Homo sapiens: one gene and its partner. The protein of the gene in region 2 interacts with the protein of the main gene of each other region in a pairwise test. Each region holds a gene or a part of one and is shown on either strand. Other genes may lie near its edges.

Region 1 (3,750 bases), on a different chromosome or scaffold from region 2:
ACTTTATGATGGTGTGAAAGCAACACCCATTCAGTAGAAACCATACTTCAATTACCCACACAGCCATTCTGTTTTTAAATTTCAGTACAGTATTCAATAAATTGCATGAGATATTCAACATTTTATTATAAAACGGGCTTTGTGTTAGATGCTTTTGCCCAACCGTAGGCTAATGTAAGTGTTCTGAGCATGTTTGCAGTAGCCTACTGATGTTTGATAGGTTCCGTGTATTAAACACATTTTCAACTAATGACATTTTATTTTTTTGAGACGGAGTCTCGCTCTGTCACCAGGCCGGAGTGCAGTGGCATGATCTTGGCTCACTGCAACCTCCGCCTCCCGGGTTCAAGTGATTCTCCTGCCTCAGCCTCCAGAGTAGCTGGGACTACAGGCGTGCGCCACCAGGCCCAGCTAATTTTTGTATTTTTAGTAGAGATGGGGATTCACCATGTTGGCCAGGATGGTCTCCATTTCTTGACCTCATGATCCGCCCGCCTTGGCCTCCCAGAGTATTGGGATTACAGGAGTGAGGCTCCACGCTGGGCCTCAACTAATGATATTTTCAATTTACAATGGGTTTATTGGGATGTAACTCCATCCTAAGTAGAGTAAGTAGAGGAGCATCTGTACAAAACAAGCTCCCTACCCTTCCACTATGTACCTAAGAGCAGGACATACATTTTCAAAGGTGTCCCACCTCCTCTTTCTACCAGGGACAAAAGTTAGTCACCAGAGACAACTTTAGACCCTTATCAGCCAGCGATGGCGCTAGAAGAACCTACATAACACACTTTACTCACTACCTGTAACTACCATTAGTTTCTCGTATCTCTGCCTTCCCACTCTGCTGTTTTTGGAAACTTCAAACTGCTTTCGCCATTTCTCCCCAGTTATTGTTCTTTATTGTAAATGCTACGTAATTCCCCCATTCTAAGCCACCTGTTTGAGTTACTCTTCCTTGAGTTTTGCCCATATAAGATGTACATGTTACTAAATTTTTCTTTTGCCAATCCGAGCTTTGTGATAAGGGCCGCAGTGGAGAACCTAGAAAGGTAGAAAGATTTTCCCCCCTTCCTACAGCCCCAAGGAGGGTTTGAGACACGGGTTCCGTTTTTTTCCTTCAGCTCCTCACTTTGTAGATTCCATTCAGGTCATTCCCCTTCCGTCACCATGCCCTTTTTTCATTGAGTAGATATATCTGATGGGCCTGGGGTTTTCTTAGGTACATTTCAGGCCCAGGGGAGACACAGTTTCATTCTTTTTTTCTTTTTTATCGGACAGCCTCCTGAACCAGAAGAGGTTCAGAGCGACTCCCACAGTTTCACTCTTGAACTTGGGTATTTTCCAAATTGCCTCAGCAAAAGGCTGCTGTAGTCGGTCTTCGTAGCTTCCTTCTCCAGGGTATCCTAGCGGCGCGCAGTGCAGGAGCCTCGCACCGCTCCCCGACGGCGGCTGCCAGCTTCCAGACAGACGCCGACCCGGTGTTCGCAACCAGGGCGCAGGCCGGGCCCGGAGCGTTTAGAGCGCCCGCCCCTCGGTAAGGAACCGTCCCTGAGCCACAGGGCCTGACGCGACTGCAGAAGGAGCGTGGGGTCCTCCGAGGTTCCCCTTCTCTAAATGTGCACCTTCCTCAGGGAGACCTTGTGCAGCTGAGGGAAAAGTCACCACTCAGGGTTTCGGGCCGGGGACCCAAATAAAAGTGCTGCCATCAGCAAAAAAAGAAAAAAAAGGCACGAAGAGGAGGTGGGCGGATTCCCAAGGCGGTTTCGCCCACTAATTTTGCCCAGAGATGACTCTGAGGTCTCTGAGCTTAATGCTTTTCAGCTGTTGTGCAGACTCGCTTTGCCCTCTTATAAGCCCACTATGGGAGTTCCCGCTACACGCCGGCCCAGGGGTACAAACGACAACGCGCCGCCCTTGGAGCGCGTCGCCGGGCCCCGCGCTGCGCAGCCTCCAGCGGCGCTGCGTGCCCTTCCTTTTGCCCGTCTCCAAGATGGCGGCGCCGCCGCCGCCCCTCCTCCTCGCCGCGCAGAGCCGCGCTGCGCCGCGCGCTCCCGCCGCCCCTCCCCACGCGAGCTCCACCCAGGTCGCAGGCAGCGCGGTCGGCGGCGGCTATTTCCCGCCATTGTGCGAAGTGAAGGCTAGGGGCCCGTACGCGCCCGCCTGACTGTCGCCAGCAGCTCCTCGGCGGCCCCACCGCAGCCGCCGCTCCCTGAGGCGCGGGAGGCCCGCGCCCCGCGGCTCGCTGTGCGTGGGAGGGCGCGAGCGAACGCGGGCGAGGAGCGGCCGAGCCGCTGAAGAGGAGCTGGGCGCCGGCCGCCCGGCCGCGCTCGGCCCGCGGATCGCCTCCGCCCGGTCTTCGCCGGCCCCGGCCCCTGGCGAGATGCCGTGTGGGGAGGATTGGCTCAGCCACCCGCTGGGAATCGTGCAGGGATTCTTCGGTGAGTGGCGGCGCCGGGGGGCGGGCCGGGCGGGCAGCCGAGTTTGCCGGGCCCCGGGGCAGGGCCCCGCCGCGCGGCCCCCACGCGGTACCATCTCGAGGGCTCGCGTGGCCCGAGACGGGGCCCCGGGGCCTGCACCGGCCCCAGCTGGGACAGCCTCTCCCCCGGTCGCAGCAGGCAGGGGCAGGAGCCGGGCCGCAGGTACCTCCCACCTGCCCGAGTCGCAGCTTGGGAGCCGCCAAGGTGAAGTCGTGGGGCGCGGGCTGTGATTCGCGGGCTGTGATTGACGGCCTCGCTCCCAGCCTGTGGCAGGGCCAGGGCCCCGGCCCCGGGCGCAGCAAACTCGGAGGTCCTCGAACCCTGGGGAGGGCCCGCAGAGCCGCGGGGAGGGAAAACCACTTTGCCTGTGGGAAGCCCACAGGATATTTCAAAACTTCCGGTGCGTCGGGGAGTGCTCGCTTGCACAGAAGTTGGTTCTAACTCCTGTGCTACCCTCATTCTCTCTTTCAGAGATAAGATTTAATGTTCATAGCTTAGTTTTCCTGTTGGGATGACTTTAGAACCCATCTAGTCTGGATCTGCTCCTGTGCCAGAGCCAGCAAGAAATATTGAGCTACTTGAGTTTGTACACAGGGCTGAGAATCCTGCAGGCGAGCTTAGTAAATTTTGGTTGCGATTGCTGTTGCTACTTTACTGCGAAGGGTATACGAAGAAAAGTTTATATTTGTTGTCGTTAACTGGGCATTTTGACAACCGTTCCATTCCCCAGTGTCTTTTTACACGTAATGAGTGGCGGAGTCAGATCCAGCTAGAAATCACTGTAGATGGCAACACCTGACTTGTCTGGAGTTAACTTAGAGTTGTAGAGCGGCCTTAGCTCATTGAAAAAAACATCTTGGGGTACTAGAGAGAAAAGGCAGTGGGAAGCTAAATCATCCTCAGCAGCCAAAATCGACGGCAAACAATGTATGGTATTTCTTATAGGAGGGCCTCTAGTGCTTACTCAGGAAGTCCTTATTAATTTACCTGTAATTCTAATTAGTTTAGTTACCTGGCTTCCCAGGCTGTAACTAATGGCATTATATTAGAAAAAAGCCTGGATAGACGTCCGAACTTAGCCAGTGAACACTGACAGCCTGATGAAGAAATTTAAAACTACCTTCATACTTGAAAAAAAAAAAAATTCACTATATAGCAGTCAAGGGTGCTTTGAGGAAGGGGCATATATTTCTCCACTAAATCCTAGTAATTTATGTTCATAAGAATTCTAGAAATGATAATCGATGGTCAACACAATGGCCCCAAAATG
Region 2 (3,750 bases):
TAGCTGGGATTACAGACACGCACCACCATGCCCAGCTAATTTTTGTATTTTTAGTAGAGATGGGGTTTCATCATGTTGGCCAGGATGGTCTCGATCTCTTGACCTCATGATCCACCTGCCTCGGCCTCCCAAAGTGCTGGGATTACCGGCATAAGCCACCACGCCAGGCCGACTTGGATTATTTCAGATGAAGTTTACGTAAACTCTAGTATGGAAATATTAAAAAGTTCTGGTAAAAAAAAAGTTTGTATCCTACTGCTCTACAATAAGCCACACACTGAACTTTGACATTCAAACAGAACCAAACTGAATAAGGAGAAGAAACATTTATACCTTTAGTCTTTCTGATAATGGCTTCTCAGAAACTACTTCAAGTACGGAAGTATTTGAATCTTGACTATTCATACGAGCTACTGTGGCACTGCTAATGGTTCTCTGCTTTCCAGCTCTTATTGCAATCACATGTTCAGAGAGTAAGTGATCATGATGCTCATTTGGAGTATCTAACAGGATAAAGACCAAATCAAATCTGGATAGTAGTGCACTCCCCATTCTATGAAGGATGAAAGAAAGAAGAAACAATGATTGGAATCAAAAGGAAAAACTAGAAAACTGTCTACTCACTTATTTACTACTCAAGTTCCACGCAGAACTTGAAAAACCAAGATTTAGGTTAAAGAAATAAGCAAATAGCTTCTTGGATTCGATATATCCAACCACTGCAACATGGGCACAAGAATTACATGTATCTACCCTGGGTAGGTTGAGGACATGGCTCTTTCTCACACCCCCAAACCCACTGAATTCTTCATGTCCTATTATCACTAATTGGCAATACTGCTACATGACATATCAGAGGTTAGCTAGTTCAGTATTTTGTTCATGATACCATTAAAAAACAGAATCCAAGTCTGCTGGATTTTTGTTCAATAGATCTTTCTGATTTTTCTAATATAGCACTTTGTCATTTTACTAAAGAAAAACTACTAGTAGGTTGATTTTTTTGGTGGTGGTGGTAAATACCCTAAATCTCCAAGTACACATTGTGTATTTCACTATGTATCAAAGACTGTTTCTATATTGATACATTATTAAACAACAAGAAATTAACTCCACCCCCACTAGGCTTAAGGCTCTAATTTTTCAGGAGGTACTCTTTTGTCTTTTTCTCACTTTTGTATCACTTAAATATATTTTTCCTTTTCCACACATTTTGTCCAAGCTGTACAGAATGAATTAGAAGAGAAAGCATACATACAGATATAAACATTGTTTTTGAAAAAAGCAGGATCATACCACATATTTAAGTTTGTTAATGTGCTCTTCTCACTTAATAGTACAGCACAGACATGTTCCCCCATTAGTACATATAAAGCCACTTTCGTTCTCATAATCACTACAGTCTTATTATAGTTTTAAGGTGTTTCCAATGTTTGGCAGCAATAATGCTGCAATACCCATGCTATAAACCTATCGTTGTGCACTTGTATGACTATTTCTGTGAACAGTAGTCCTAAAAGTAGAGTGGCTATAACAAACAGAATGTGCATTTAGAATTGTGATCAACACACCAAGGGGTCCCACAAAATAATAAATTGTGTATGTGAGAAACAATTTCTTTTTCTTTTTTTTTTGACATGGCGTCTCACTCTGTCACCCAGGCTGGAGTGTGGTGGCACAATCTCGGCTCACTGCAACCTCCACCTCCCAGGTTCAAGCAATTCTCCTGCCTCAGCCTCCCAAGTAGCTGAGATTACAGGCGGCTGCCATCATGCCTGGCTAATTTTTGTATTTTTACTAAAGACGGGGTTTTGCCATGTTGGCCAGGCTGTTCTCAAACTCCTGACTTCAGGTGATCCACCTGCCTCAGCCTCCCAAAGTGCTGGGATTACAGGCATAAGCCACCCGCCCAGCCACTGAGAAACCATTTCCACACTACTTTGCCAAAAATGATTAATATTTAAAATGTTTGCCAATCTGGTGGATCTCATTCGTACTTCATTGTTTTACTCTGCAGTGTTTAAGCACATTTTTGTGCATTTATTGGACATTTATAACTTCTGTGAAATATCCATGTTTTTCCCCTGTAGTTCTGTGAACTATTTCTTTTTCTTATTGAATTAAAGTGATTCAATACATTAAAGGTATAAATATTTGAAGAGACTTACTTTAAATTCTCAGAAACTGTTTTGGCTTTATTGTAATGTCCTCCAACTGGATTTGCAGCAGCAATAATGGAAGTTCTTGCAGGAAGGCTACAAACCACACCAGCCTTAGCAAGACTAATACTTTGCTGCTCCATGGCTTCCAACAAGGCTTGATGTTGATTCCCCATCTTATCAAATTCATCGATTCCACAAATACCTACAATCGAAGTAGAATAAAGCAGAAAAAACATTTTTTCTTTGGTCAAGTTCCAAATTTTATAGGATAGAAATTGTTTCACAATAATTATTTCCATTTGTTTCAGCAGTTAAAATTATAAAATGTCATACAATGGAGAATTACTGTTTGTTCTGCAGCAAGTTAATACATTTGTCTTATTTAACTAAGTTTTGTGTAATAGTTCTTCCTTTAGCATTTTTCATACGCACAGCACTATGTTGTGAGGATTACAAAAACGAAGAGGAGGTAAGAGTAATTCTCAAAATGCTTAAGGAGTTAAATTCAAATGGGTGTGATGTTACATACACACACAAACACACATGCACAATTTAATAAGTATACCTCAATACACATATAGTAAGTTTATTATGTTTAATAAGTATATTTCAAAACCTATACCAGGTATTGACTATACACTTGTATGCACTTATAGGGAAATCACTTAATCTCTTTAAACATAATACAATGCACCACCACTAACTAAAGGCACTGTATGTACCAGGAATGTCATGTCTATTGCATAAGTTATTGGAGATTCTCTAACATTACCTCGTAATGCTTGTCTTCCTTTCTCCCCATACCAGTTAGGTTAGTATCTGGGGGTCACATCTGAAGGGCTTTGCTGTGGTTAAACCCCTCCGTATCTACTCTATACCTAAGTAAGCCTTACTAGCACAGAGGAGTATATGGAAAATAACTGCTGATTAGTCTTTTTGATCCCCAGCTGCTAACCTAACTGGTATGGGGAGCAGGGAAGACAAATATTGTAAACTAATGTTAGAGAGTCCCCAATAACTTGTGCAATAGACATGACATTCCTGGCACATACAGTGCCTTTAGTTTATTTCAACAGATTTTCTTCTATCCTTGAATCCATTTCTGGTTTCATGTTTGGGTTTTCTACTTCATGGAACCAATTATGTTGAATTTCCTTTGTTCTCTATCTCTGTTACTTCCCCTCTAATTGTATTAAGCTTTGTTCTTTTGCATTCACTGCAATTATCTCAAGCCTTTCCTCTTTATAATTTCTCATTCAGCAGTGTCAATTTTATATATTAGTTTAATAACATTGTTAGTCATCAATTTGTCTCTCATAGCCTTATCTTTTTGTTTTGAGCTATTTCATTAATGTTCTTATCAAACATGAAACACTCATGGGAAATTTTCATTTGTTCCTTAGATTATAATTTTGTCTACAGTGAGGTCTTTTACTGGGCATATTAAATGTCTTTCTTTCTTCCTACGTTATTTCTTCACAGCTGCTATGCTGTCTCTTTGCCTTGCTCATGTATAATAACGGCTGCTCTGTCCAAACCTATTTCTTCCGACACAGTATATATGAATTCTTGTCAATACGCTTTTCCC

The links.
Region 1: the proteins of MCM8 (region 2) and MCMBP interact in binary tests that used the Homo sapiens proteins (3 or more experiments, as listed by UniProt).

Annotation. Positions count from the first base shown.
Region 1 is NC_000010.11:119,871,218-119,874,967, reverse strand, and holds the start of MCMBP (mini-chromosome maintenance complex-binding protein), read left to right. Parts: upstream 1-2,124; 5' UTR 2,125-2,383; coding exon 2,384-2,441; intron 2,442-3,750. UniProt on the Homo sapiens protein: Associated component of the MCM complex that acts as a regulator of DNA replication.
Region 2 is NC_000020.11:5,981,584-5,985,333, reverse strand, and holds part of MCM8 (DNA helicase MCM8), read right to left. Parts: intron 2,365-3,750; coding exon 2,169-2,364; intron 554-2,168; coding exon 334-553; intron 1-333. UniProt on the Homo sapiens protein: Component of the MCM8-MCM9 complex, a complex involved in the repair of double-stranded DNA breaks (DBSs) and DNA interstrand cross-links (ICLs) by homologous recombination (HR).